Homo sapiens: one gene and its partners. The protein of the gene in region 2 interacts with the protein of the main gene of each other region in a biochemical or structural test. Each region holds a gene or a part of one and is shown on either strand. Other genes may lie near its edges.

Region 1 (4,310 bases), on a different chromosome or scaffold from region 2:
AACATGATGTTACTTAGACTGACCAGCTTTATTGTTCTATGAGACTGCATTCCACTGTAGGCTGGCTGTGTCAAATATATGCTTCTGATGACATGGGATCTCTAATTACACACACACACACACACACACACACACACACACACATATATATCTCCAGCCTCTTAATGTAGTAAAATATTTTAAAATCTGTTCTAATTACTTAGTCATACCTTACTGTGCTAATCTAATGCTATTAACCTTTAACCTGGATAGAATTCTATTTATTTGCATTATACTACTTTGTAGTGTAATAGATGGCCAGCAGCTTAATTCAAATAACCACAAATATTTTAAAGTACCATGTAAGTCTAATTTTATTGACTTTTTTAGTATAAAGTAATAGCTAAAATTAACACTGAGCACTAATTCAGAGCTTTGTGTGTAAAAATTTAATTAAGACACATTACCAAACTTGCCAAAGAGATCCTTAAGGCGCTCATCATCCATGTCTTCTCCAAAATTCTTGATGTAAACATTGGTGAATTCTTTTGCCCTAGCTCCAAGTTCAGCTTCTCGTTCTTTACGAGACTTAAATCGTCCAACAAATCTAATAAGATATACAAGGACTATAACATTAGATTCTATTTTATAAAGTTCAGATTAAGTAAGCCTGATGGTTGGTTTTGTTACTGTTAATGAGAATATTCAGAATCCCTAATAAAAAGCACACTACAAAATAGAAATAGGGCCATAATTTAAGATATGACACCATGAAATATATGAATAAGCCTCTAACTACAATCACAAAAAAAAAACCACTTCTTTTAATACACACTTCTCTTCTCTAGCTAACCTAGGGTTAAAGGGATCACTCCCATCAATACAAATGAGTGGAAGTGCATGTGTACCATGCCAATAAAAAGACCTCTATCAAATTAAAAAGCTTTCATCGTCATTTTAAAGTGGCGCTTGCGCTTTCTTTGCCATCTCCTAGAATAAAAATTTAAACTTCCCAATCGTGTACTCTAACACACAACAGCCTGACATAACTGCAGCATTTTCAACAAAATGACACTAAAACTTAATTTTTTCTGAATATAACAGTAGTAATTCAGAACAAGGATCACTGGGCTAGGCAGTGGCTCACACCTGTAATCCCAGCACTTTGCAAGGCCAAGGTGGGATGATCACTGGAGGCCAGGAATTCGAGTTCAGCCTAGCCAACATGGTGAAACTGTCTCTACTAAAGTACAAAAATTAGTTGGGTGTGGTGGTGTACACCTGTAATCCCACCTACTTGGGAGGCTGAAGCACGACAATTGCTAGAACCCGGGAGGCAGAGGTGGCAGTGAGTAGATTGCACCACTGCACTCCAGCCTGGGCAAGAGAGCAAGACCATGTCTCAAAAATATAAAAAGAACAACGATCACTGAAGAAAAAAAGGTAGCACATGTGTCATAGCATATTATAATACACAGCAAAGCAGAAGGAAAAACCATCTTACATAATCTCACCCTAGTCATCTAAATTTCCTTATCTCTAACCCAGCTTTAGAATAAAAAGTAAAATAAAAATAATTTCCTTATCTCTCCACAAAATATGGTTGGTCTTCGCTATGCTATTAGTTTCATAAATGTTCTCAAAGGGAGCGTATTTCATTGTGACCATCACTTTCTGCTTTGTAAATAATGCTGCAACTTTTTTAAGAGACAAGGTCTTGCTATTCTGCCCTGGCTGGAGTGTAATAGCTGTTCACAGGCACAATCACAACACACTACAGCCTTGGCTCAAGCATCCTGCCTCAGCTTCCCAGTGGCTGGGAATAAAGGCACACTGCAGTAAAGCTGAAACTTTATGAAAGACACTTTGTGTATTTCTTCTTAGGACAGTTACAAATTTCCAAAAGAGTTATATCACTTTTACTCAAAACAGCAACATATCATTCTTTTCTGGATCCTGCCAGTGTTGGGCTTGCTTTTTTTTCCTCCTAAAGCCCTGGTAACAGGCATTTGTGAGTATTTATTTATTTTTTTTAAAGACAGTTTCAATCTTGTCGCCCAGACTGGAGTACAATGGCGAAATCTCGGTTCACTGCAACCTCCGCCTCCCGGGTTTAAGTGATTCTCCTGCCTCAGCCTCCCGAGTAGCTAGGATTACAGGCATGCGCCACCATGCCCAGCTAATTTTGTATTTTTAGTAGAGACGGTTTCTCCATGTTGGTCAGGCTGGTCTCAAACTCCCAACCTCAGGTGATCCGCCCACCTCGGCCTCCCAAAGTGCTGGGATTTACAGGCATGAGCCACCGCGCCCGGACTTGTGAGTAATGTATGTCTCTCATTTTACAGTACATAAAAGCAAATTACTTTGAGTTTCCTCACCTATAAAATGGGTTAATTTAACCAGTACCTCAAGAATTATGAATATTAGGTTTGTCTGAATTCCTGATTTTTCACTAATGCACTCATTTTGAAAAAGCTACATTTTTCTGTTTACTTATCTTCTGTTTTCCTTTTGGCATGAATGTTAATTATATTAAACCTGTTATTTGTATGTTACACTTACTGTGTAGAAAATTCAATTGTAAAAATCAAGATTAGCTTATTAATTTTCACTCCAGTACAACTACATGAATTTTTGTTATTCATCTTTAAAATGTTTTTATTCTTTTATCTTATGTGCATCTAACTTCTCCCTGACAAATATTAACTTAAAATGAATGGATTTGGAATTATTAAAAATAAGATTCAAAATATGATTAGCTAGATATTTATAACTTACACTTTGCGATCATTTAGGAGCATTCCATTCATTTTTTCAATAGCTCTTTCAGCTGCTTCCTGCGTCTCAAAGTGTACAAATCCATAGCCCTTGGAACCATTTTCATCACAAACCACCTAGGGAAAAACATATACCCATTTTTCTTTATTTGCTATTGATTTAACATTTGTTCAGTGTTGAGAGACAATCTGTTAGCCATCTAACCTGGATATTTGTGAAATAAAGATATCCATTACTGCACAGTTCCTATTTCAAGCACTAAACTAAATGTAGCTCAACAATGTAAACATGTGTATCGGACATTTTTGGCTTACCTTACATGAAAGGATGTTACCAAAAGCAGAAAATGTATCATACAGTGCTTTATTATCAATGGATTTGTCCAGATTTTTAATGAATATGTTGCCTACTCCACTTTTGCGAAGTGATGGATCACGCTGAGACCACATGATGCGTACTGGCTTGCCCTTTATAACATCAAAATTCATGGTGTCCAAAGCACGCTCCGCTGCAGGAAGGACATTTTCAGAGTCAATATTACTTCAAAATTTTTGCTGGCTACTTAAGATTATATAAACTATGGTGACTGGAGTGGGAGGACACATGGTCTCACAGTTGAACGCTTCCTCTTTAAGCTTCAAGATGGCTAGACCTTTCAAGTATCACACACTAGTGTGGGACCTAAGTTGTATAAAGCAAAGACAAATACCAGAAGCCCCCGAAATTTCTCACATATAAAAGAATTCCATATTGCTAATAATTAATAAATTCTTGACGCAATCTCTCGCCTTAATTGCCATTAAATCTAAAGCACTTTTTTTCCTAGTTATCAAAATCCAAATTCCTTCACATACAATCTGTTTAATAAGCAGTATAAAAGACATTACGCAACAGATTTATCTACAAGCTGGAAGTAGTTTATAGATTTAAATATTTTAACTTCTTCCCAACTACTTGCTAAAATTGGTCATTTCATTGCTAATAACTAACAATATTATATGAAAACTAGTCCATTTCCTAAAAAATGAAAGTTTCTTAATTATTGGGGGGAGGGAGGGTTTCAGTGATTCATGGCACAACTTCCATTTAAGAAAATGAAAGGCTAGACCAAGATTTGAATCATGCTTTCAAAAGCTAATGTGAAGTTAGACATATTTGGTTTCATAATCACAGAATTTTAAAAACACCAGGTCTGCAATATTCAGAAATCACCATTAACGCTCTCTTGACACATACAATCAATTTCACTTTAGATCGCTGATTTTCTTAACAACTGATTTAGTTATTTCTGAATACTGCTAGAAAATTTCAAAATCTACAATTAATTTCAGGATCTATAAAGGATTGAATTATGTATACCTGTACCATTAAAGGCTCTAAATGAAATAACACATCCTTAAATAAAAAGACTAGTCCCCGAAGAGAGGGAAAACGGTCCCTTTTAAGCCCTGAAACAATTCCTACAAATTCCATGCCAATGTAAATTTAAAAGTTATTGACAGGATGAATTTTCCGGCCACCTCTTTTTTTATAAATGAAAGTTCCAGTTTCTA
Region 2 (4,310 bases):
GAAAGAGGAAGGGGCATGAGAATAAGCCATAAGAAACTCCAGCAGGTAATGGCTAATAGAGGAAGATGAGCCAGCAGAGGAGTCTAGGAACCCAGCAAACAGTAACAAGAAGTGTAAAAGATGAGATGAGATGAGGAGTGTGGAGATGAGAGTGTGGAGGCCCCGGATAGAGGCTGGATGAGAGATTCACGGGGTCAGATGCTGCTGGGAGGACAACCAAGACGAGCACTGTGTCTGTTGGATTGAATGACACAGGGGTCATGTTGACCTTGGTAGGAGCTGTTACTGAGTCGTGTTGGGAGTGGAAGCAGGTTTGGAAAGGGTTGAGGAGTGAGTGGGAGGTGAGGAAGTGGCAACAGTGAGTGGAGACAACTCTCTCAGGAAGTTTGCCTGTATGGGGGAGGAAAGAGAGCAGTGAGTGGATCTGGAGGAGCGTCAGGTCAAGTTGGGAGACCGTGGATCCTATTGAGAAGGAGAGGTTGATCATATAGAGGAGAAAATAGATAAACAGTGGTATAAAATTCCTGGAAAGGCATCATAGGAAGAATCCAAATCATAGGTGAAGCAGTTGGTTTTGGGAAGGAGAGAAAGGGATAGGTGCTGAAGTTTGGTTAGGTTTTTATGTTTGAGGATGTTACCCAGTTGGATGGCTTCCCTTTCCTCTGTGAATCAGGAGGGGAGATCAGCCTCTGAGACGGGTGGCCAATGGAGAGTTATGTCCTAGTCTCAGGCAGGCCTTTGCTGATGTCTTGGCTGTAGTAAGCCCCAGGTTCCTGTAATGCCCTCCTCTTCCTCCTTCATGATATTCAGTCAACAAATAGGGAATGCTATGGGTGCCAGGCACTGTTCTAGATGTTGGTGTTACACTGCATTGTAACAAGTTGTTCAATGACTGTTTCCCGCTGAACTGAGAACTCCTCCAGAGGAAGAACCATTTCTTTTGTCTTCATCACTCTCCCCTGTGTCTAGCACAGTGCCTGGCATATGGGAAGCTGTCAGATTAGACAACTCCTGACTTTGAGCAAGACTCAACCCCAACCCCTGTGGTCTGATGCCAGGATCTTCAGGCTTAGTGACTACTTCTTTCACTTCCTGCCCCGAGGCCCCTGCCCAACTCCCTGCCTTGAGCCAGAACCCAGTTGGCTCTTTGCATCCTTTGGTAACTCCAATGAGAGGGGAGAGATTAGGTTGTGTTCCTTCTTTAAAAAATTGGACTGAGATCATCTTTTTGACCTCGAGCAGTGGGGTGTTGGTGACCACACCACCTCAGGCTAGATGCTCAGGCTTCAGCACTTAAACAGTTTCACCATTCTTCCTCTAATACTTCCTGCCCTGGTGACCAGATTGGCGGGGCTGCCCTGAGGTCAACTTGGCTCTTCACTGTTTCAGCCTCACAGTGCATGCACTCTTCTCAGATCATATCTCCTAGTGCCTAGGAGGTTGGTCTCTGCCTGACCTTTGAGAAACCTGGCTCTGTACACTACTGCTTCAGAGAAGGGTTTGCCATCCTTAAGGTCCTCTGAGCATGGCAGAGTCGTGGAGTCTTCTGCTTCCTGACACCCATGGAGATGCCACTCTTGAACAGTGTCTGTGCCAAGATGTTGGTTTAAGCTACCTCCCTCGCTCCCTTTTCCTAGATCTCAGCCCTCACCTCTCCAGGATTCCTGTCCCATCTTACTTCCCACTCAGGGACCCTTTGGCATTCTCTGACACCCTCCCAAACACTCCCTTTGCTCCTCCCCAGCCCATTGGGCCACACAGCCTTTCTTGGTATTTATTCCCAGCCAGTTCTGAGCTTCCTGGATCCTCCCACCCCCTGTGTCTGTCCCGTTCATCCGTCCTTTCCTTCTGCAACAGCCCAGTCTGTGTCGGCACACGGCACACTCTCTTTGGTAATGGGAATGTGAAATTGAATAAGACACCGTCTCAGATATTCTGATAGAATGTGGTTCTGGGTGTTGTGAGACACGAAGGAGAGAACAGTCACTTGATGGTGGGGAGAGAACAGGAAAGACTGCTTAGGAGCTGTAACTGCTGAGGTTAGTTTTGAAATACAAGCAGAGGTTCTCACAAGGGGAGACAGAATTCCAGGCCGAGGGAGCAGTATAAACAAAGACCCAGGGCTTTAAGAGTGTGCGACATGTTTCAGAATCCGCCACGCTTCATGTGGCTAGAGTATAAGGTATAAAGGAGGCGGGAGGTGGGGAGGGGACTGACAGGTTATAGAGGCCGGCTTAAGAGGGCTCTTGGGTGTCTGCGAACGAGTGCAGGCGTTATCCGAAAGGCAGTGGTGAGCCCTCTCATTTTCTGAACCAGGGAGTGACACAATCTGGTTTCCATTTTTGGAAGATTACTGTGGTTCTGGGAGGAGGTAGAGCTATTTTTTTCTTCATTTATTCCAGTGGCTGTGAGTTTTCTCATTGGCCAGGAGGAGTCACACTGAGCAGATCAACAGCCCCACGTGAGGCAGACACGTGCGCAGAAACCTTTTTCATCTTACAGATGTGTGGGTAGCATAGCACTAGTGTCTGAGGAACTAGAGACGTAGAAAGGTGAGCTATGGGGCCGGGCGCGGTGGCTCACGCCTGTAATCCCAGCACTTTGGGAGGCTGAGGCGGGTGGATCACCTGAGGTCAGGAGTTTGAGACCAGCCTGGCCAACATGGTGAAACCCTATCTCTACTTAAAAGAAAAAAAAAAAAAGAATTACAAAAATTAGCTGGGCGTGGTGGTGGGCACCTATAATCCCAGCTACTCAGGAGGCTGCAGGAGGTTGCAGTGAGCTGAGATCGTGCCATTGCACTCCAGCCTGGGCGCACCGCACCTGGAGAGATGGGCAAGCCCTGCTCAGGTAGCTGCAAGACCTGTGCTCAGCGCTGAGAACACAGAGGGAAGGGGGGTAGTGGTGAGTCAGGGAAAGAAAGAACTCCTTAGTAGAGGAACAGGGAGATAGGGAACTCTCAGATAAGACATCAAGGAGAAAGGTCTGTACAGTGGGAATGAGAAAGAGCACAGTGCAGTGTTTGTTGGGATGGTCAGTGAGGGAGAATTGTCTGTTGGGGGAAGGGTCGGGTAGGGCAAGAGAATCAGTGAGGCCATCGAGGGAGGAGAGAGTAATGTGGTAGGGGCTGTCTGAAGGAGGGCTTGCATGGAGGGCTCAGGATGAGAGAGAAGTGGGCAGTGGTTGGTCAGGGAGAAATAACTGAAATCGGGGGCTGGTGAGGGTCCAGGGAGAGAGCACTTTCTCTTGGGGGTCCGGGAAGGAGAGCAGCAGAGCAACTGGAAGGTCAGGGAGAGTGGGGAGGATGGAATGGGGCCGAGGGTGGGTCCCTGGGTGGCGGGCTGGAAGGATAGTTGGGACTCAAATGGTTGCGGAGAAACTGACCCACGAAGGGCTGTGAGGAGGCAGAGGGAGGGGTCTGGAGGGGGAGCTGTCCTTGCGGAACAGGACGTCCTCTTACCTGAGAGGCAGGTGGAGTTTGTTTGGGGCACCATAAGGCATAGTAACGTAACCAAAGTGTTTTCTGACACTGGCAGAGGAGATGCCAAAGCGAAGCCTGGAGGAAATGGGGACTGATTCATACATTCATTCAGCAAATATTAATGGAGTTCCTGCTCTGTGCCAGGACTACGCTAGGCACTAGGCATACTGTATTTAACCAAAAAGGCAAAATCCTCACCAACATGGAAATTATAAATTATAGTCATGAGGAGACAATCATTAGACAAAGTAAATAATAAATTGGCTTGTCAGATGGTGACAGGCGCTGGGGAAGAGTTTAGGGATTGCTGAGGAGGGGCGGAGGTAGCCTGTGGTTTTAAAATGGGTGTTCAGGGAAGGCTTCACTGAGGCTGTGACATTTGGTCAAAGATCTGAAAGGCTGGGCCGGACGCAGTGGCTCATGCCTGTAATCCCAGCACTTTGGGAGGCCGAAGTGGGCGGATCACGAGGTCAGGAGTTTGAGATCAGCCTGACCAACATGGTGAAGCCCCGTCTCTACTAAAAATACAAAAATTACCTGGGCGTGGTGGTGGGCACCTGTAATCACAGCTACTCAGGAGGCTGAGGCAGGAGAATCACTTGAACCCGAGAGGCAGAGGTTGCAGTGAGCCAAGATTGTGCCATTGCACTCCAGCCTGGGCAACAAGAGCAAGATTCTGTCTCAAAAACAAACAAACAGACAAACAACCCCCAAAAAACAAAGATCTGAAAGGCTGAGGGGCCCAGGGGAAAGGCTCCCATAGTGATCCAGGACAGGGCATTATGAGGGCTGGCAGAGGGACCAGTGCCCAAGGGGAGCTACTTCATGG
Region 3 (4,310 bases), on a different chromosome or scaffold from region 2:
TCAATTTCATCTTAGAGGTTGAGAAAAGCACTGATGTAGCTTCCCTGGACAGTCCTAGGGAGAGTAAAGGAAGACTTCCTTGGCAGTTGCTGCATCATTTTCATTATGAGGAAGAACATTCTGAGGCGCAGCATGTTAAGCACAAATTTAAAGTTTTCATACAAGCCTGGCTTATAGAGGAGGGATCTATACAAGTTTTACTGTTCATATGTAATTTTAAACTTACTGTTTGTGTCTAATTGTGAAAAAATATTTGATTTTTTTGTTAAACTGTTCTAATATAAGGATAGTAGCTAGCATAAAGCAAATATATAAAAGTTGAAAGTTTTTGAACAAATATAATACTTAATACAAATTTTAATTTCCATCAAATTAATTGTGATTCTGTATAACTTTATATTTGAGTCCCTTTTATAAGGCAGTGCCATTTCTTATTTCTCTATTAGTTTATGAAAAATAGATTTTATAACTTGATTGTGGTACTAATAAAAAACAGCCTTTTAAACATGTTACAGCACTAATGGTGAACGATTTCAAGTTTTTAGCAATCAAGAAAGGTTGAGAATGCAACATATATTTATATGAGGGTAAATATTTTTACCTCTTGATAATTTTTGAAGTTTATTCAAGTATTTGACTAAGTTAAAAGTTACAGTAATTCTTTACATGCATTCAAGTTTACTCTTCAGTAGATAACTTCTGCATTTTTTGACTGAGACTTAAAATTGCTATTTTGTGGATTTGGTTGTTATTAAAATACAACTATAATTATTTTTTAAATATTTAGTGTTCATTAATTTTGTTCATACAAATAGCTGACTTTTCTATAGTTGATCCTACATTTCGCTGATTAATATGGTTCAGAGCATACATTGCTCAGTGAAAAAGAGAAATGGCCCTTGTGGAGATGGTCCTGTAGTTTTAAAGAAAGACTTAATGATCCAGGATCTGAAGATAGCTTACTGTGGTGCTGCTGGGATGTTTATAAGCAAATAAGTTGATGTCCTTGTGTTGGAGACCACCACAGAGTTCCCTGGGGACTAAAAGTCCAAATTAGTTTAAATGCATTATTGTGTCCAGACAGTATTCAGGTAGGGCAAATGAAGTACTGCGAGTTCTACTTTGAAGTGGAGTTATTGGGGGCGGAGTGGGGGGAAGTGGTTCTATTAGAAAAAAAGTGAGTTCTATTAGAAGGCAGGTTATTGAGGGAGGAAAATTTACTCTTAGCATGTCCTGACAGTGATGCCAAGCTTTTCACCATAGGGTCTGTTCCATATTAGTCAATGCGGTTTGAACACTTTTTAAGGCTCTTTGAACGCTTACTGCAGTGTTGCAGTCTAGAAAGCATGTAACAATTATATTGATTCTTACTGGTCATAATGTAAATCCCTTGACAAATTCAAGGTCATTTTGTCTCCTGATGGGTTCCTGGTTGTATGGTGTGCCATTTACAATTAGAACATGGTTAGGGCTTGCCTCACTCAACTGCTGAAGTACCAAAGAAGCTTTTATCTTGTCATTTATTAGTTCGCTTTTGCATTGTGTGTGTGTGTATTTAGCCTTAGCTATTTTTAGTCCTTGAGAAAGGCCTAAAACTTGTGCTTTTTTGTTAAGGACTCAATTTAACACTTGTATTTTAGGGTTTGACTTTTGGCTGGCAATAGGCTCTTACTAATATCAATAATGACGAGGGTTTGCCAAGTTGGCATAAATCATTTGATTCTTAAACACTTGCAGAATCATGTATCCGCGAATTGTTAAGTATTACAGAATTTAATACACTCACCCAGACAAAAAACATACACACAGGATGAAATTATTTTGTGGAGAAAAATTAACTTTTTATAATGGTAACTAAAGAGTTGGTCACATGAGAAATTTTTATCACATTGTATTATGTTATAGAAGAAATATGTGAAATGTATTTTTTCCCAGAACAACTTTTTTAAAAGTGATTTTCTTCATAAATATTTTCAGAACTATGGTTTTCACCCCAGAATTCCAGAAAGCCAGAAGACGTCTTCTGTATTTACAGGCATGTAGTTGGTTCTGTATAGATTTGAGATAGGGTCTCAGTCTGTTGCCTAGGGTGGAGTTCTGTGCCATGATCATAGCTCACTGCAACCTGAACCTCCTGGACTCAAGCAGTCCTCCCACCTTAGCCTCCTCGGTAGCTGGGACTACAAGCATGTGCCACCATGCCTGGCTAATTTCTTTTATTTTTTTGTAGAGGTGGGGTTTTACTATGTTGTCCAGGCTTGTCTCAAACTCCTGGACTCAAATAATCCTCCTTGGCCTTTTTAAGTGCTGGGATTACGGATGTGAGCCACCATGCCTGGCCTATTCTGTATAGTTTATAGAGCATTTCCACATCCTTACATAATTTATTCCCTACAACCCTGTGTTATGTAGACTAAGTAATATGCAAGTTATAAAAGGAATACAAGCTTGGGGGTGTTAAAACCTTTCCAGTTACTTTAGCCACTCAGGTTTGATTGCTAGGTCTGCCAGTTACCTCTAAATTCATCGCTTCTTTAACTACAAGAAACTGACTTTCTAGAATATTAAATGCCGGTTATGCTTATTCAAGTTTCACCTGTTAACCTTATGTATGTCGTTGTTTGCTTCAGTTCTAGTTGCTGATTATTTTTCTAAATGTCCTGAAGAATGTATTTCAGCAACATCATCAAACCACATGTGGTTTCTTATTCCTTTGCTAGTTGTCAGTCTTTTCAACTGACAAAAGGAAACATTTTGGTTTTTGACTTGTAAATTATTCTGAAATACCCTCTTGGTAGATTGCTATTATGTTTTTAAATCCCTGAGGTTTCCTGTTAGTATTTTGGGAAGTCTACTACTTAGTAAATATGAAATCAGAAAATGAAAGTGTTAATATTAAGTAAAATAGTTAATGCAGCAAAAGCCTATGATTTTTAAAGCTATTTGATTTATAAAATTAAGTGTTTTTAAAATAAAATAGGGATAAATATAAATCTTTTCATTTTTTGTATGTGCCCATAGGCATTTCTCCCACATGTGTTTTTTTAAGATGGAACTTTAGTGCTAGTGCTGTTTCCTTCTCTCATGAGTAGGTCTTAACCTTACCGTCAAGGACTGTCCTAAATGCTATTATTTTTCAGTAAAGCTTTTCTTGACTTTGCTATGGAAGTAAACCTTTTTAAATTTCACAGTGTGTCTTTGGTGCCACTCACACTTTCTATCCATGTCTAATCATCCCTTACAAATGGTAAAAGCAGACTCTGTTTGATTCATCTTCTGTATCAATTGCTTGCATATACAGACATCTTCAACTTAATATCAGTAACCTGTTCCTGAAAATCATGTCCTGAGTTAAAATACTAATGAGGAATCCCCATTTCCCATTGTTTAAAAAAAAATTATATGTAACATGTATTTCCCAAGTCCTTAACTAATTTTCTAAAACATATGTAATATATAGTAAAACATGCACGTATACCAAACAAGCTATCATATTAGTATGTAAATGCTTTAAACATTTTCCGTCAATAAAGAATTATAGTTCTTAACAGTTGCTTTGTATGTAGTAACGTATTACATGTCATCCCGTTGAGACCATGCACTTACCGAAATATTTACATTTGATTCTGCTGATCTGTCCATTCTTACTGGATTATAACTTGAGTTTTTTTCCATGTGGCATTTTGTTTAAAATGTTGAGTTGAATTTTGGTGATATAAATAACGAAGTTTTCATTTGTAAATATTGCCCAAAAACATTGAAATATACACTTGTGGAAATTTGAATACTAATTATAAGGGCTGTTTTATCAGACGTTTTGTAAGGCACGTTATATTGCTTCATCAGTATTTTTCTTTTTATGCTGTCCATTAATTTGATTAAGCAAAATGTAATGCGGTTGAGTGATAACCTGAAGTAATAGCTTTGTTGAGAAAGAAGTTGCTGTTGTGGTGTAAACAAAATTTTGGTTCCTTAAATATTAATTTACCTTTTTAAAGCATTGGCCATTGAAGATCAAATGATATTTCTAGTTTATTTGCTGGCTTGAAATTCCTTGTGTCAGTGAAAGTTAGTGGCTGATCTTTAACAGTCCTGTTAATTTTATTTGATATGTAATATAATTTATATACTCTATTTCTTAACAGGTAGTTGTGTCAACTAACATAGCAGAGACGTCTTTGACAATAGATGGTGTGGTGTTTGTGATTGATCCTGGATTTGCGAAACAGAAGGTACATATTTAGTGGATACTTTATAAATTAGAGTTGGTTTAACAGTACTTACAACCAATTCATTTAATGGCTAAAATT
Region 4 (4,310 bases), on a different chromosome or scaffold from region 2:
CAAGCTTCCCCCACAGTGGACAGGAGAAGGAAGGAGTACCATTCTCCACCCTGCCCTAACAGTGAGTTAATTCATCACAACAAGGCACCTTTCCCCAAGAGGAAGGCAGAAGACACGGAAACTTGTTCCTCATGTGGCTAGCAGGGCTTGCTGGAGGAAGGATGGATGCAGGGTTTGAGATCCTACTGTCAATATAGAGTCTGATCACCAAATCCAGAGATGAGATGCATAGATGGAGGTGAGCTGGGAGGACATTTGGAGTCTAGGGCTTGATTGCATTGGAGAAACATGTTAGGAGCTCTCATGCAGGTTTCAGGGGAATGGAAGGGACCATCTGAGAAGAAGAGAAGGTCCATCCTTTTCCTGAGGAACGGGACCAAGCCAGGCTTCACCTGAGAATGGGTGGCAGAGGTGGGGCTCCACGGGCAGCTGAAAAAAAACAAAATAAAGACCACACACATACAGGTCACCCACCAGAATCTGAACAACCCACACATTCCTAAAATGAGAGACAGGCTCTTTAAGCTAACCTTTAAAATCTGGGGACTACGTGTTATTATTGTTTTGCCTAAGAAAATGAAGATGAGTGGCCAGGCAAGGTGGCTCACGCCTGTAATCCCAGCACTTTGGGAGGCCGAGGCGGGCGGATCACCTGAGGTCAGGAGTTTCAGACCAGCCTGGCCAACCAGGCAAAACCCAGTCTCTACTAAAATTACAAAAATAATCCGGCATGGTGGCACACGCCTATAATCCTAGATACTTGGGAGGCTTAAGCAGGAGAATCACTTGAACCTGGGAGGCAGAGGTTTGGGGTGAGCCGAGATGGCACCACTGCACTCCAGCCTGGGTGACGATAGGGAGACCCTATCTCAAAAAAAAAAAAAAAAAAAGGACAACGAAGATGATGAGAAGCAATTTTTTTTCTTTTTTTTTGAGACGGAGTCTCCCTCTGTCACCCAGGCTGGAGTACAGTAGCGTGATCTTGGCTCACTGCAACCTCCGCCTCCTGGGTTTAAACAGTTCTCCTGCCTCAGCCTCCCGAGTAGCTGGGACTACAGGTGTGTGCCACCACGCCCAGCTAATCTTTTGTATTTTTAGTAGAGACGGGGTTTCACCGTGTTAGCTAGGATGGTCTTGATCTCCCGACCTCATGATCCGCCCACCTCAGCCTCCCAAAATGCTGGGATTATAGGCATAAGCCACCGCGCCCAGCCTAATTTTGTATTTTTAGTAGAGACAGGGTTTCATTATGTTGGTCAGGCTGGTCTCGAATTCCTGACCTCGTGATCCACCCACCTTGGCCTCCCAAAGTGCTGGGATTATAGGTATGAGCCACTGTGCCCAGCGAGAAGCAAATTTTAACCTAAGAAAATGCACAGATTCTACATTCTATGCAATTATGGAAAAACCTTCTTATTATTATTCTCACCTCGGTTTGTTTTGCTGGGATATATCCTCTGAAAGTGTTTATATTCTTCTGGAGCAGGAAAGTCTTCTACTGGATGGAAGGAATACTTTGACTCAAAATCATCTGCGAAAAGAATAGAACATTAATTCCTATCATCCTTGCTTGTGCTCCCACAGGCCTCTGATCGCTTCGACCCTCCCCACTTACTAATCTCTCAGGCATTCTGAGGTACTGTGAGGACCTACTGCCCCACCAAACCAACCACCCTGAGAACAGCAGCAGCATCACCCCACGTGCCTTGCATGCACAGAGCATGTATTCAAAACCTCTCTGTACTAAGTAGTGCGTCTTTGAGCCCATTCTTTATTTATTTATTTTTTGACAGTCTCGCTCTGTCACCCAGGCTGGAGTGCAGTGGTGCCCACCACCTCACCCGGCTAGTTTTCTGTATTTTTAGTAGAGACGGGGTTTCACCATCTTGGCCAGGCTAGTCTCAAACTCCTGTGCTCAGGCAATCTCCCCACCTGGCCTCCCAAAGTGCTGGGATTACAGGTGTGAACCACGCCTAGCCTGAGCTGATTCTTTAAACCTTTCCACCAAGTCAGGCACAGAACAGGAAAGGAGCTCAGTTGTTTGCATGGTAGCAGAAAGAAATATAATTCTTTTTTTTTTTTTTTTTTTTTTTGAGACGGAGTCTCACTCTGTTGCCCAGACTGGGGTGCGGTGGCATGATCTTGGCTCACTGCAACCTCCACCTCCCAAGTTCAAGCGATTCTCCTGCCCCAGCGTCCCTGAGATTACAGGCAGGCACCACCACACCTGGCTAATTTTTGTATTTTTAGTAGAGATAGGGTTTCACCATGTTGGCCAGGCTGGTCTTGAACTCCTGACCTCAGGTGATCCACCTGCCTCGGCCTCCCAAAGCGCTGGGATTACTGGCGTAAGCCACCAGGCCCAGCCAATTCTGGGTTTTAATAACATCTTACAGACTGTCACCACGGGAAAACAACTGATCTAAATCCAGAAATTGGTAGGAATTAATTTAAAATGGGAATATCTGTCTATGACTAGTGAGAGATTTGACCAGATGATTCCCTTTCAGTCCATGTTACCTTCACTTACATAGTTGGGACAGCCATCTCATGGCTTCTACTACTACTTTCTACAGCCCCTCCATCAGAAAGCTCAAATTTTCTGTAAGTGCGGCTTGATCACATCCCAAAGGTTTCTACAATAAGGATATATCTTTAAAGCAAAAACCCTGGCATACCTAATAGGAATAGACTAGAACATGGAGGACAGTGGGTAGGTAAGGACAGCAACCATTAAAGAATCTAGAAGCTGGGCATGGTGGCTCATGCCTGTAATCCCAGCACTTTGGGAGGCCAAGGTGGGTGGGTAGCTTGAGCCCAGGAGTTTGAGACCAGTCTGGGCAACATGGCAAAACCTCATCTCTACAAAAAAAATACAAAATTAGCCAGGCATGGTGGTGCACACCTGTGGTCCCAGCTACTTGGAAGGCTGAAGGATGGGAGGATTGCTTGAGCCTGGGAGGTCGAGACTGCGGTGAGCCGTGATTGCGCTACTGCACTCCAGCTTGGATGACAAAGCAAGACGCTATCTCAAAAAAAAAAAATCTAGAGTGTTAGGGTTGCAAGGGACCTTTCAGAGATTTCTTCCAAGGGTCCTCAACAGACGGGTCTAACAATAGCCTATGGACAACCTTTACTTAGGGTTACATCCCAGAACCAAGGAATCAGAATCTCTTAGGTAGAGCCCCCCCAACATTTATAATCTTGGAAAAGTTAATCTGATACACTTCTGATCTAGTCAACCTAATTTTACAAATAAGGGAAGTGAGGCCCAGAGAAGTAACGTGACTTCCTCAAAATAACACTGCTAGTTAGTGGCTTTGGATTAATGTGTGTAATGTTTTGGGTTTTGTTTTTTTTTTTTTTTTTTTTTGAGACGGAGTCTTGCTCTGTCACCCAGGCTGGAGTGCAGTGGCACAATCTTGGCTCACTGCAACCTCCACCTCCTGGGTTCAAGAGATTCTCCTGCCTCAGCCTTCTGAGTAGCTGGGATTATGGCTGCGTGCCATCATGCCCAGTTAATTTTTTATATTTTTAGTAGAGATGGGGTTTCACTATGTTAGCCAGGCTGGTCTCAAACTCCTGACCTCAGGTGATCCGCCTGCCTCGGCCTCCCAAAGTACTGCGATTACAGGCGTGAGCCACTGCACCCAGCCGACTTTTTTTTTTTTTTTTTTTTTTTGAGACAGATTCTCTCTCTGTCGCCCAGGCTGGGGTGCAGTGATGTGATCAATGGTTTGCTGCAGCCTCAACCTCCCTGGACTTAGGCAATCCTCCTGAGTAGCTGGAAACACAGGCGTGTGCCACCACACCCAGCTAATTTTTGTATTTTTTAGAGAGATGAAGTTCCACCATGTTGCCCAGGCTGGTCTTGAGTTCCTGGGCTAAAAGCAATCCTCCCACCTTGGCCTCCCAAAGTGCTGGGATTACAGGCATGAGCCACCACGCCCAATCCTTTTTTCTTTAATATTTTTTGTCATTCTTTCTTCTTTTTTCTTTCCAGGCAATGTGCCATGGGACTTTTCTTTTTTTTTTTTTTTTTTTTTTTTTTTTTTTCAAGAATTCCAAGGAAAGGCTGGATGTGATGGCTCACATGTGTAATCCCAGCACTTTGGGAGGCCAAGGTTGGAGGACTGCTTGAGACCAGGAGTTTGACAGCGGCCTGGGCAACAGAGACCCAGTCTCTATAAAAAATAATTAAAAAATAATAATTCCAAGAACAATCAAGTGTTTTGTTTTTGAAGAGCTAGAAAGGAACACTCCTTCCTAGGAGAATACATAAGTCCTGTCTGAATAATCCTAAAGAAGAT
Region 5 (4,310 bases), on a different chromosome or scaffold from region 2:
AACACATGACCATATAGTGCTCTGGAGACTGTATCCTCGGGTCAGGATCTGAGACCTGAAGGGTGGGAGGAGAGGCATTCCTGGCGGAGGGAACAGCCTGTCCAGACCTGGAGGCGAGGGTTCATTTGGTGCCTCAGAGTGGGGGATGGGGATGCTGCAGCGGTTGGAAGGGCATACACAGAGAGTCAGGCTGGGCAGGGGAGGGACGCAATGTCGGCTTTTGCAGGTTGGGGGCCCAGCCTGCTGCCATGAAGTGGAGACAGACAGGCCTAGGGCTGGGGTGTCTGGAATCTGGGGTCTTCCTGCTACTGGCCCTCACCTTCCTCGTCACTGTCCTCCTCCTCTTCCTCTTCCTCCAAGCAGGCCTCCTCCTCCTCCTGCTGTTGGAGCAGACGCTGCTGTAGCTCCCGCTCCTCGTAGGACTGGAGCAGCAAGTTGGAGAGCGGGCAAGCAGGTCTCCCGGGGGACCCGGGCTTGGGGGGCTGGTGGGTTGGGGTGCGGGCACTGAGCTCCTCCTGGGTGAGATACTGCCCGATGTACTGCTCATATAGCAGGGGGGCCCGGAACCGCATCTGCTCATCACTGAAGTACTCGCCCCCTGCACAGAGGAGAGACAGGGTGGGCATGGGGTGAGCGACTGAGCAGATAGTGTCCATGTGGGTATGTGTGTGATCATGCTTGTGGGATGATGTGCATACACAGTCCAAGTGTGTGTATGCACACATTCAAAAACACAGGAAAACATGCAGGCACCTGAGGTGCGCGTGAGTACTCATGCAGGCGCCTGAGGCGTGCGTGTGAATAATGCAGGCGCCTGAGGCATGCACGTGAATACTCATGCAGGTGCCTGAAGCTGTGTGCGCAAGCACTCATGCAGGCACCTGAGGTCATGTGCATGTGATTACTCGTGCAGGCACCTGAGTGTGTGTATGTGGCCCGGCCTCTATCTTCCTGTGTATTCATGTATTCATGCATCCAAGCATGTGTGTGCATGGGCAGACCTGGCTACATCCTGGCCTCTGAGGCTCTGACGGTCTGGAGCTCGTGTACAACTGTGTCCAGGCACGATGCACAAGCTCCTGCCCATGGACGTGTACATGGCCTATGTACACACACATGTCCTGTGAGGCCCAGCATATGCCCACAGACACCTGTCTGTCTGGGTGTCAGCATGCAGGACAATGCAGCAGAAGTTGTGTGTCTCTAGGTTGTGTGCCTGTTTGTGGGGCCCTAGTCTGGCTGGCAGTGGACACGCCTTCACTGTGGGGCGTGTATGTGTGTACATCCACGTGGATTTGGCATGTGTGTGCAAGGGATCAGGTCAGGTGGGGCATCTGCCCGTGTATCCCTGGGAAAGCCTCCTGGTGGTGGAAGGCCCTAGATCCATCCTCTCTCGAGTGCTCCTCTATGCAGCAACCCCTCAGGTGGGCCTGGCTTCCCCACTACCCCAAAACTTGAGTTCCCTGCATCACCCCTGGCTGCCTGTTTCTGCACGAGTGACTCTGTCCCTCAAATAACAGTTAAACCTGCCCTGGTCCCTCCCCTCCACTGGTCCTAGCCGTGTCTTCAGAGTCCAGGGCAAAGAAACTGCTCGGACTCCTGGCCTCTGCAGCACCATAGGCTGTGACTGTCCCTGTCCTGCTCAGCTTCCCCACTCCTGCCAGCAATCTTACCCCCAGCTGTTTGTGGCATCCTCTAGCAGACTCAGTTTTTTGAGATGGAGTCTCGCTCTGTTGCCCAGGCTGGAGTGTAGTGGTGTGATCTCGATTAACTCTAACTGCAACCTCCGCCTCCCGGGTTCAAGTGATTCTCCTGCCTCAGCCTCCTGAGTAGCTGGGATTATAGGCACCTGCCACAGTGCCTGGCTAATTTTTTTTGTATTTTTAGTAGAGCCGGGGTTTCACCATGTTGGCCAGGCTGGTCTTGAACTCCTTATCTCAAGTGATTTGCCTGCCTCGGCCTCCCAAAGTGCTGGGATTACAGGTCTGAGCCACTGTGCCCAGCCTCTAGCAGATTCAGTTTCTATCCCTCCTTCTCCCCAACTTGGATTATCACCCACCCCGGCTCTGGATCTCTCTCCATCTCTTCCTTTATCTCCATCTTTCTATCTTTCCTGCTTTTTTCAGTTTCTGTCACCTACCCCCACCTCATTCATCTTTCTTCTTTTTTTTTTTTTTTTGGCAACCTCCACCTCCCAGATTCATGTAATTCTCCTCCCTCAGCCTCCCAAGTAACTGAGATTACAGTTGCCTGCCACCACATGTGGCTAATTTTTTTGTATTTTTAGTAGAGATGGGGTTTCACCATGTTGGCCAGGCTGCTCTGGAACTCCTGACCTCAGGTCCACCCCCACCTCGCCCTCCCAAAGTGCTGGGATCACCGGCTTGAGTGACTGTGCCCGGCCCATCTTCCTTCTGTTTTCATCCTCATTTCCACATCTGTGTTTTTTTTTTTTTTTTTTGAGACAAGATCTGGCTTTATCGCCCAGGCTAGAGCTTAGTGGTGGGATCTCAGCTCACACAACTTCCACCTCCCAGGCTCAAGCAATTCTCCCACCTCAGCCTTCTGAGTAGCTAGGGCGCCACCACACCCAGCTAATTTTTGTATTTTTTGTAGAGACAGCATTTCGCCATGTTGCCCAGGCTGGTCTTGAACTCATGAGCTCAAGTAATCTACCCACCTTGACCTCCCAAAGTGCTGGGATTACAGGCATAAGCCATCATGCCCAGCCTCTCTCTCTTTCTCTGTGAACCTCTCTATAACTTGTGCCTTCTCCCTAACGGCAACTTAACTCACTCTGCTTCATTCACTCTCATCTTTTAACTTTGGTTCTGGTGTTGTGGTCACAAGGATGCTTTTAATTATGTCATGGTCAAAAAGCTATCTTTTTTTTCCTTCATGGTTTTCACCGTGTGTCTTGTTCAGAAGGCTTCTGTGTCCCCAAGGTCATGTACATACTCCTTTTGGTTTCCCCTGATGCCTCTGTATATGGTATGAGGTAGGGATCTCATGTTTTGTTCCTTAGGTATGACCAATTATCACAGCACTGTGTACTGTGTCCTCAGCCTACCAATCTGAAATGCCACTTCTAACATCTACTAAATTCTGATCTATTCTCATTGTCTGTCCCATTCTCTTCCCTGGACCCCTGTCTATCTCTCCCCCTTACTTTACATTTCTGTCTCAGTCTCTTCCTGTGTCCCTGTCTCTGTCTCAGAACTTCTCTCCCAGGATCTCTGTCTCTGCTCTTGTATTCTTTTCTCTAATTCCCTCTGCCTCAGTCTCCCCTCCCTCCCCATATGTGCCCACTGTCGCCCATCTGGCCCCCACACCTTGGATCAGCTCTCGCAGGGCAGCATAGCGCCGGTTACGCAGGCGGGTACGCAGGGTGCGGGGCCGGGCAGTGCCCTGCCGGGCCACCTCAGCACAGTAGAAGTCTGCACGGTGGTCGCCACGCACGTGGCCAAAGCAGGCCAGATGCTCCTCACGGAGGCCTGTGCGGAAGCGCTCCAGGAACACCAGTGGCTTCTCGTGGTACAGCTGGGCCAGGATGGCCACTTTCTCATGCTCTGTCAAGTCGGGTTCACCCTGCTGCTGGCTGCAAACAGGCAGGCGGCTGGCGGCTACAGCGTGCAGCATAGCACTCACTGCTGCATTTTCAGCCCCGGAGGTGTCACTGTCCAGGGCCACTGGTGTTGCCTCAGCTGCTTCCACTTTGTCCTGGGGTTTAGATGGGACTGGTGTCCGGCTCAGCTCACCCCAGTGCCCAGGTCCAGGCTCTATGCAGCCTGAGGAAAGGAGAGATTGGTTAGTTCAGAGATGGGAGTGTGGGAAGGGACTGGGGGCTTAGTCACTCACTCAGCTCACATTTACTGGGCACTGACTATATTCTGGGCACTGTTCTGGGCACTAGAGAAACCACAGTGAGCAAAAGTTGACATTTCAGTAGGGGACACAAACAATTAGCAACATAATTACCGAAAACATAATGTGTTAGGTGTTTCCTGGAGTTATGCGGAAAAATAAACAGGGAAGGAGGAGGGAAGAGGTGGAGGAGGCTGCAATTTTATTTTATTTTCGAGACAGGGTCTTGCTCGGTCACCCAGGCTGGAGTGCAGGGCGCAATCACAGCTCACTGCAGCCTTGACCGCCTGGGCTTGAGCGATCCTCCCATCTCAGCCTCCCGTGTAGCTAGGACCACAGGCATATACCACCATGCCTGTGTAATTTTTAAATTTTTTGTAGAGACAGGGTATTGACATGTTACTCAGGCTGGTCTCGAACTCCAGGGCTCCAGCAATCCTCCTGCC
Region 6 (4,310 bases), on a different chromosome or scaffold from region 2:
GCGCAGGGGTGGGGCGGGTAGGGGTTCAGCCCACAGAGGGGGCCGGCGGGAAGCTGCACCTGCTGGTCGGGCTGCATCTTCCGGCCCACGACGCGAAAGGAATTGGCCGTGGGGTTGTGGTAGATCTGGACGCGGCTGAAGGCCTGGGGACCCGTGCCAGCAGGGAGCCATCGCTTGTTGCCATCATCATAAAGCATCACAGTGGCCCGGCTGGAACAGATGACCGTCTCGCTGCAGGCGGGAGGAAAAGGGAGAGGGGCCGGTCACCTTCTTATCTGGGTCTCTCCTGGGAGATTCCAAGGGACAAAGACAGTGTGTGGAAGGAAGAGAGTGACACAGAGGGAGGCAGGAGCCACGTGGACAGAAGGAGACGGGGGAGACAGATCAGGAGAGAAAATCAGATCAGGAGAGACAGGCAAACACACAAACGAGATGCAAGAGACAGACGCAGAGAGAGGTGGGAAAGGGAGAGTCGGGTTGACAAAGAGGAGAGACAGACTGAAGGCAGACAGACAGATGAACAGATGGGGGAGGGGTGGGGAAAAAGGATGGGCAGACAGGGGACCTGGAGGAAGAGGCAGACACAGAAAGAGATAAAGATGGTCTTGGCGTGGTGTCTCACACCTGTAATCCCAGCACTTTGGAGGTTGAGGCAGGAGGATCACTTGAGCCCAAGCATTTCAGAGCAGCCTGGGCAACATAGTGAGACCCCATCTCTAATAATAATAATTATTATTATTATTTTTATTTTTGTTTTTGAGACAGAGTCTTGCTCTCTGTCACCCAGGTTGGAATGTGGCCTCGACCTCCTGAGCTCAAGCGATCCTCCCACTTCAGCCTCCCAAGTAGCTGGGACTACAAGCATGCACCACCACACCCGACTAATCTTTTTTTTTTTTTTTTTTTTTTTGAGACAGAGTCTTACTCTGTCACCCGGGCTGTCCTCGGCTCACCGCAACCTCTGCCTCCCAGGTTCAAGCCATTCTCCGCCTCAGCCTCCTGAGTAGCTGGAATCACAGGCATGCACCACCAAGCCCAGCTAATTTTTTGTATTTTTAGTAGAGACGAGGTTTCACCATGTTGGCCAGACTGGTCTCGAACTCCTGGGCTCAAGTGATCCATTTGCCTCAGCCCCACAAAGTGCTGGGATTACAGGGGTGAGCCACCACACCCAGTCCACAAAAAAACTTTTTTAATGAAAAATAAAAAACACAACACAACAAAACTAATAAGAAGGAAAAGATAAAGATGGAGAGACAGGCTGAGGGGTGTAAGAGGCCGAGGCCAATGCCAGTGGGGGGATGCGGGTTAGCAGAGCAGAGGGCAGGAGGGAAGACAGAGGGGCCAGAAGGAGGCCAAGAGCCCAGAGCTGCACTAGGGACCAGCCCCTGCCTGACCTCAGTTTCCCTATCTCTACGCACCCCCCTCCACCACTGCCTGCTCAGGAAGAAGCTGAGGCTTGGGAGGGGAAGTGTGAGGCCTGCAGCAGGTTGGGGACCCATCCCAGACCTCTGAGCTCTTCCTCCAAAGGGACTTCCCGCTGCCCACCCCTCGCCTGGCTCCCCAGGGCACTAGCGGCCATTCCCCAGATACTCCCTGCTCTGTGTCTGGCCTATATTGGGTGGGGCTGGGGATGAAGACACAGCAGTGACCCAGACAGCTCCGGCACCACCCTCCTGGGGCTCACAGTCCAGTGTGGGAGACACAGCTGTCCCCAGACGGTACCAACCCAGGTTTAGGACCAAGGAGCCCAGGGTCTGGGGGTACCCTGAAGGAACGCCTGCCCCAGCCTGGAGAGTCAGGCAGGACTTCCTGGAAAAGGCAACGTCTGACTTAGCCTGGGTGGGAGGTGTCAGTAAACTGGTGCAGAGTTCAGGAGCTGATATCCCCAGACCTGGGTTCAAATCCCCACTGAGCCACCTACTTCATGTGACTCAGGCACATGACCTTCCCACTCAAGACCTCTTCTTGCCTGTGAACTGGGAAAATGACAGTCCCCACCTCCAGGGCAGTGGGGGAGGGGCACATGAATCTGGGCACCTAAAGGGCTTGGTACAGCCGGGTGTGGTGGCTCACGCCTGTAATTACAGCATGTTGGGAAGCTGAGGTGAATGGATCGCTTGAGCTCAGGTGTTCGAGACCAGCCTGGGCAACATGGTGAAATCCCGTCTCTACAAAAACGTACAAAGATTAGCTGGGCGTGGTGGTGTGCACCTGTAGTCTGAGCTACTCAGGAGGCTGACGCAGGAGAATCGCTTGAACCCAGGAGGTGGAGGCCGCAGTGAGCTGAGATCACGCCATTGCACTCCAGCCTGGGCGACAGAGTGAAACTCTGTTTCAAAAAAAAGAAAAAAAGCTAAGTGCTTGGTACAGCGTCCAGCACACGCCGAGAGCTCAGTAACTGTCAACATCCCTCTCATGGGCACCACTGGGGCCCGGGACAGCTACAACCCTCGGGACCCTCCCACCAGCCCCTCTGGGAGGTTCAATCCCCTCTCCCCCAGTGAGGAAACTCAGGCCTAGACAGGAACTCAAACAGGAAGTGACTTGCCCAAGGTCACACAGGGGAAGGGGAAGCACTGGTCTCCTCCCCACCCCACCCACACCAGGCTTTTTCCTGAAATGGGGAAGTTGGTGGTCAGAGGTTTCCGGGGACAGAAATTAGACACCCCCCGCAAAGCCTCTGTCTCTAGGAGGGCTGGGGGCTGGGTGTGACACTGATGCTGGGAAGTCAGGGCAGGGAAAGTCCCTAGGCAGACTCAGCTGTGGGTAGGGACCTGGGGTAGGGACCCTCAAATTTACCTAATTGTGCCATCTCCCTCTTACTAGGCATTTCAGGTGGATCAGGGGCCTTAAGCCCCTCCCCCAAAGTCACTCATTTTATTCTCACTGCAGCTTATCCAGAGAGCCACTCATTCTAATTTTGCAGGTGAGGACTAGAGGCCCAGAGAGGTTGAGTGACTTGCCCACAGTCACACAGCTACTGAGGAATAGAGTGAAGATGTGAATTCAGGCTTCCAAGCCTTAACCACCGGGAACTGTGTGGGCCCCACCCAAACACCAGGTGCCCTTTCCAGACAAACACAGCCTCGGGGGCTGTTTCTGGCTCCTGCTGCCCCTGGCAAGGCAGGGTTAAGGCCTCGGCCTCACCCACACCTGCCACCCACACCCAGGGCCGACTCTGGCCAGGAGCCCGGGGCTGCTGCTGCCCCGCCCTGGCTGCACTTTGCTCTCCCAGGCAGCCCTGCCCTACTGAGGCTCTGGACTGGCCGGAGAACAGGGCGCCTGCTGGGTGACCAAGGGGTGGTCTTGCCCCTCTCCAGGGAACACTATACCCATTGTAACAGAAGGATCCTGTTAAAACACGAGGTGGGGCGGGGAACGGTGGCTCATGCCTGTAATCCCAGCACTTTGAGAGGCCGAGGCGGGAGGATTGCTTTAGTCCAGAAGTTCAAGACCAGCCTGGGCAACACAGTGAGACCCCCCATCTCTAAAAAACAAAACAAACTAACAAAAACCTACAAGGTGGGATGTCTCTTCTTCTTCTTGAAGGCTCCAGGCTCCTACGGAATCAATGCCAAGTTCTCTCCAGGGCCTCCGTGATCTGTGTGTCCTCAGATCTCATTTCTTCCCGCTCCACTGTCCCTTGGGGACTCTGTTCCAGACCCTAGACCTCCTACCCCCATGCTGCTCTTCCCGCAGGCCAGACACATTCCTGCCTCGGGCCTGTGTGCTGCTTCTTCCTCAGGCCTAGCCTCTCCCCACTTTCAGGTCTCTCCTTAGATGTCACCCCTTCCAAGAAGCCGTCCCTCACTCCCTTAGCTGGAAACGCTTCTCTCCTTTTCATCCCCTGCTGCACATTTCATAGCAGTGACCCCTGCCCAACACAATATTTGTCTGTCTCCGCTGCCAAAAAGGCAGAAATTTGTGTCCCAGTTGTTCACTGCTGTGTCCCCAGAACCTAGAATGGCGTCCAACACATAGTAGGGACTCAATAGTTACGAAACATCTGTAAAAAAAGGCAAACTTTGGCCAGGGGAGGTGGCTCACGCCTGTAATCCCAGCACTTTGGGAGGCTGAGGCAGGAGGATCACTTGAGCCCAAGAGTTTGAGATTGGCTTGGGAAGGCTGGGTGTGGTGGCTTATGCCTGTAATCCCAGAACTTTGGGAGGCCAAAGCAGGTGGATCTCTTGAGGTCAAGAGTTCGACACCAGCCTGGCCAACATGGTGAAACCCTATGCCTACTAAAAATACAAAAATTAGCCAGGCATGGTGGCTCATGCCTGTAATCCCAGCTACCCAGGAGGCTG
Region 7 (4,310 bases), on a different chromosome or scaffold from region 2:
ATAGTGGAATTGCACTTCCAGTATTTATATATGTTTAAGACATATTTGTTCATGCCTTACTTCTTTTCCTCCTCTCTCGCTCATAATCTTCATCTTCATCAGAATCTGGATCTGGTCTCCTTGCAAACCCACTTGCTTCATGTCTGTCTTTACGCCTTCTGTGATAACAAAGGAAATAAATGTTCATCACAGATGAACCAATTTAGAGACCTGAACCTGGGATGACTTCCTCTTGACCAGAAGATATCCAAATCCTGTCACAATCAACTATGAAGTTGCAGGGGTAGAGGGGGTAGGAAGCATAACTGGTAAAAGACTAAAGTAGATAAAAGTATGAAAAGTGAGAAAAATTCAAGAGATAAATTGAACCAATAAGTATACGAGAGCAACCAGCATGAAAAAAAAGGTTCCTTGACATTGACCTCTTCCAATGTTAAAGCCTATCAACATAGTAATAGTTCAATCATTTCAATAGTCTATAACACTTTCACTCATGAAATGATTCAATAAATGGGAAACAGTATATTAATATTTAATACATGTTAACTATTTGATAATACTAAATATTTTTAAAAAGAACTACAAATACATCCTACTACTCGTACTTTGCAAAAACATAAATAAAAGCTGCATATGAATTTTTAAAAATTCCACCTGGCTCAAAAATAGTAAAGTTAAGAAGAATATTTCAAGTACTTTAAATAGCTGTGATTTTACAAGTTGAGAATCCCTTATTCCAAATGCCTGGGACCAGAAGTGTTTCAAATTTTGGAATATTTGCATTACAATTACCAGTTCAGCATCCCTAAGCCAAAATCCCCCAATGCACATTTCCTTTGAGCGGCATGTTGGCATTCAAAAGATTTTGGAGCATTTCAGATTTCGGATTTTTGAATAAGGGATAGTCAACCTATAGCAGAGTATCAGCATAGAAAAAAATTTTCAACATCAGGTTTATAAGTTATTTTTCTAACAACTCACTCAAAATATACACTTTAGGTCTTCAGTCTACAGGTGAAGTTTGCTGTGATTCTGAGATGTAACAGGTACAAATCGTAAAACAGTTTGATTCCTTGTAGTGACTGCTCAGATCACCCATGACAATTAACTTCAGCCTTACAGACAGCAGCGACGCTCATTCGTTAACATTTTAATGAACATTTCAACTGTAAAATATCCCCAAATCCAAAGGAAGCCTTACTTTTCCCTTTCTTCTATTTCCTTTTGTCTTTCCAGCTCCCGCTGTCTCTGTCGTTCCTCTCTTTGGCGCTTCACTACTTTCTCATAATCATTAGGAAACATAGGGTCATATTCGTCAGCTAAGGGAATCAGAACTTCCCCTGCAGAAAACCCACTGGGAACAGGATCCTGAGGAAGGTAAAAACAGCAGTAAGAATCCTCTTTATATCTTACCAGTTTACTCACAGGATTCAGGTCAAAGCGTATGGGAGATAAAAGGACTCTGAACATCATCTAGCCCCTTCCTCTGTTTTAAAGACAAAGAAAACAAATACCAGACAAGGCCACGTGCCTAGTCAGGTGGTAGCAGAAACAGGACACAAAATTTCACCTCTTAGATTAGTACTATTTCTATAATACTCTATGGCATTTTTCCTGGAATTCCTAAATAAGCCACCACCAGCTAAAATATAAGTTACTAGTACTTTGAGTCAAAAAATTAGAATACTTATAGTAAAGCACTGAATACTTGTTTTTATAGATCTCTATGACAACTTAAAAAATAAAACAACCATGAACACCACAATCATTCTTGCAGTCATCATTTTAACAGAATAACTTCAGATTCTGATTACATGGAGATAAGAATATATGGAGATCTTAGAAAGCATCTTCTTGGTCTTTCTAATCCTCTGAACACATGTCCCTTCCCAGGTAGGCTGCATTTCAGGCACTGAGTTTGACACAAGGGGATGTAATGTCCCTTCCAGCATCATAATTTTTTTTAAGGTTCACTAAAATCAGGTTTAGATAACACTTCGTGTTTTCTCGTCTATACATTCAGAAACTTGGTCTACTCTTTGAAAGAAAAGAGGTAGCCATGACAAAGAAATTAGCAAAACGAGAGGCAGAGCACAGCCAGTATACTAGGAAATACATGAGCAGACACAGAACTTTACCCTAGGCTGGCAGCCTCGGTCTACACGTGGTGCTGGAAGCCCTGACCCCACTTTCCTAAACCTTCCCACACTTTCTCCTGTTAGTGTTCTTAGCATAATTCTTCGTTATTATCTGTAACAATAAGATGCCTTCTCTGGTTTTGAAAGACACCTCAAACAAGCACAGGTTAGGATTAGTGTCCCCATTTTTTTTAAAACACACATGCAAAACAACAAGGATTCATGTCCTTGAGCGCCCAGTCTGTACCTCTTACAGGAGGTACAATGTCCAACTGTATCAAAGGCAAGAAGGTCGTTTGTAAACGTGTTTCCTGCTTGAACACAGAACTGACAAAATCAAGACAGCTTACACGCCATATTAACAGACCTAAATCGAACAGTTCCTGTGTTTCATGGTTCGGTGTGACATTTTGCACTATAAAACAAACACTTCACCATTTCCTTACGACGAAATATCAGGAAATGCTATGATCCAATGAATAAGAGCAATTAGGAAAATAACTATAATCACCTCCCAGGCCCTACCCACTGGAAAATGTATTTAATGTAGGGCTCCTAAAGGTTAGTTATACATTTGTATTCATTTTATAAAAGACATTTAAAAAATACAAAAGCACATGAAGATTTCTTTTCAGTTATTATTTAGAGAGAAAATGACAACCAGCCACTCAATTTATCTAACACAATTATCACAACGTGTCTAAGAGAACAAACTGTCAATATGAAGGTTCATTCTCTGACACTTCAAAATTTCAAAGAAAAAAACTTTTACATATAAACCCTGCTATGCTTAACAATGAAATCAATCATCCTTTTCTAAATGCTGCAATGAATAAAGTGATTTGTTCAATTTAAAAAAATTAAAATGTTAATACCCTCAATGCTGAGGGGGGAGGATGGGGTAAAATTCACCCTCATATGCCTGAGGTGATACTGTGCACTGCTGGGAGTAAACTGGTGCCAGAACAGATTGGCCATAAAAATGGCTGATATCTTAATGCCACCTCAGAAAATCTAAGAAAATAACCCTAATTACATAGAAACATCTCTGTAAAGATGTTCATTAGAGGGCCGGGTGCAGTGGCTCATGCCTGTAATCTCAGCAATTTCGGAGGCCAAGGCATGTGGATCGTTTGAGCTCAGGAGTTCAAAACTAGCCTGGGCAACATGGTGAAACCTCATCTCTACAAAAAATTAGTCAAATGTGGTGGCATATGCCTGTGGTCCTAACTACTCAGTAGACTGAGGTGGAAGGATCGCTTGAGCCCAGGAGGAGGAGGCTGCAGTGAGCCAAGATTGCACCACTGCTCTCCAGCGTGGTGACAGAGCAAGACCCTGTCTCAAAAATAAAAACCACAAAAAGATGTTCATTAGAGTGGTATTTATAAAGGCAATGTAAAAGCAAATCTAGGTGGTTTTACAGTTAGGGAATACTTGTGTAAATTATGATGCATTCGCTTAATGAGAATTAAAAACTGATCGTGAAAACTATGTAACAAGGAGGAAAAAGGCTTACTCATTAAATAGGAGACTAATATTATAGGTACTAGAACCAATACACGATTACAGAAGAAACTATGAACCAGTTTTTAAATTAGATGTAGCAGGAATAAACTAGGTATCAAATTTATGGGGGAAAATGCTCAATGACTAGGAATCAGCAAAAAAACACCTCCACCATGTGGTGCTTCCCCTCCAGAAGAACTACCAGCCCTCAGGAACAGCACCCGCTCCCCTCAGAAAAGGACAACTCAAGGGTAAGCTGCAGCCACAGACTGGCCCAGAACATAAGCAGGACAGGCAGGAGACGGAGCCCAACCCAGAACAGTGACGTGAAACAGATGGGCAGGAGTGTGCCCTTTGCCCCAGCCTGATGCAGCCCTTCCCACAGGTGGTGGGGAGGACAGGCGCGCCTTGCTAAGAAACTGTCTCGATAGCACTATTATTAATCTTTTGGTCATTTTTCATCAAGCGGTTTTGTGCAATTCATGATGCTGTTTAAATGACCACAGTCATTATTTGAACGCCATCTGTGGAAAGATAAATGTATACTTAAATTGTGGGTATAATTTTAACTAGTTTATTCACTCATTTTACCTCATTTTGTCTAGTTTTAACTATGATTTTGAGTTATCCTTTTCCAGATCTTCTTCATCCTCAATAACCCAATTT

Evidence for each region.
Region 1: the proteins of APBB1 (region 2) and PABPC1 form a complex in vitro, tested with the Homo sapiens proteins (one study listed by BioGRID).
Region 3: the proteins of APBB1 (region 2) and DHX15 form a complex in vitro, tested with the Homo sapiens proteins (one study listed by BioGRID).
Region 4: the proteins of APBB1 (region 2) and WIPF2 form a complex in vitro, tested with the Homo sapiens proteins (one study listed by BioGRID).
Region 5: the proteins of APBB1 (region 2) and CCDC97 form a complex in vitro, tested with the Homo sapiens proteins (one study listed by BioGRID).
Region 6: the proteins of APBB1 (region 2) and VASP form a complex in vitro, tested with the Homo sapiens proteins (one study listed by BioGRID).
Region 7: the proteins of APBB1 (region 2) and RBM17 form a complex in vitro, tested with the Homo sapiens proteins (one study listed by BioGRID).

What each region holds. Positions count from the first base shown.
Region 1 is NC_000008.11:100,715,016-100,719,325, forward strand, and holds part of PABPC1 (polyadenylate-binding protein 1), read right to left. Parts: intron 3,266-4,310; coding exon 3,072-3,265; intron 2,874-3,071; coding exon 2,758-2,873; intron 587-2,757; coding exon 447-586; intron 1-446. UniProt on the Homo sapiens protein: Binds the poly(A) tail of mRNA, including that of its own transcript, and regulates processes of mRNA metabolism such as pre-mRNA splicing and mRNA stability.
Region 2 is NC_000011.10:6,412,024-6,416,333, reverse strand, and holds part of APBB1 (amyloid beta precursor protein binding family B member 1), read left to right. Parts: intron 1-4,310. UniProt on the Homo sapiens protein: Transcription coregulator that can have both coactivator and corepressor functions. Adapter protein that forms a transcriptionally active complex with the gamma-secretase-derived amyloid precursor protein (APP) intracellular domain.
Region 3 is NC_000004.12:24,542,862-24,547,171, reverse strand, and holds part of DHX15 (ATP-dependent RNA helicase DHX15), read left to right. Parts: intron 1-4,145; coding exon 4,146-4,232; intron 4,233-4,310.
Region 4 is NC_000017.11:40,274,304-40,278,613, reverse strand, and holds part of WIPF2 (WAS/WASL-interacting protein family member 2), read right to left. Parts: intron 1,532-4,310; coding exon 1,430-1,531; intron 430-1,429; coding exon 389-429; 3' UTR 1-388. UniProt on the Homo sapiens protein: Plays an active role in the formation of cell surface protrusions downstream of activated PDGFB receptors. Plays an important role in actin-microspike formation through cooperation with WASL.
Region 5 is NC_000019.10:41,315,862-41,320,171, reverse strand, and holds part of CCDC97 (coiled-coil domain-containing protein 97), read right to left. Parts: intron 3,789-4,310; coding exon 3,333-3,788; intron 599-3,332; coding exon 320-598; intron 1-319. UniProt on the Homo sapiens protein: May play a role pre-mRNA splicing through the association with the splicing factor SF3B complex which is involved in branch-site recognition.
Region 6 is NC_000019.10:45,513,584-45,517,893, reverse strand, and holds part of VASP (vasodilator-stimulated phosphoprotein), read right to left. Parts: intron 232-4,310; coding exon 60-231; intron 1-59. UniProt on the Homo sapiens protein: Ena/VASP proteins are actin-associated proteins involved in a range of processes dependent on cytoskeleton remodeling and cell polarity such as axon guidance, lamellipodial and filopodial dynamics, platelet activation and cell migration.
Region 7 is NC_000010.11:6,101,989-6,106,298, reverse strand, and holds part of RBM17 (splicing factor 45), read right to left. Parts: intron 1,369-4,310; coding exon 1,202-1,368; intron 159-1,201; coding exon 61-158; intron 1-60. UniProt on the Homo sapiens protein: Splice factor that binds to the single-stranded 3'AG at the exon/intron border and promotes its utilization in the second catalytic step. Involved in the regulation of alternative splicing and the utilization of cryptic splice sites.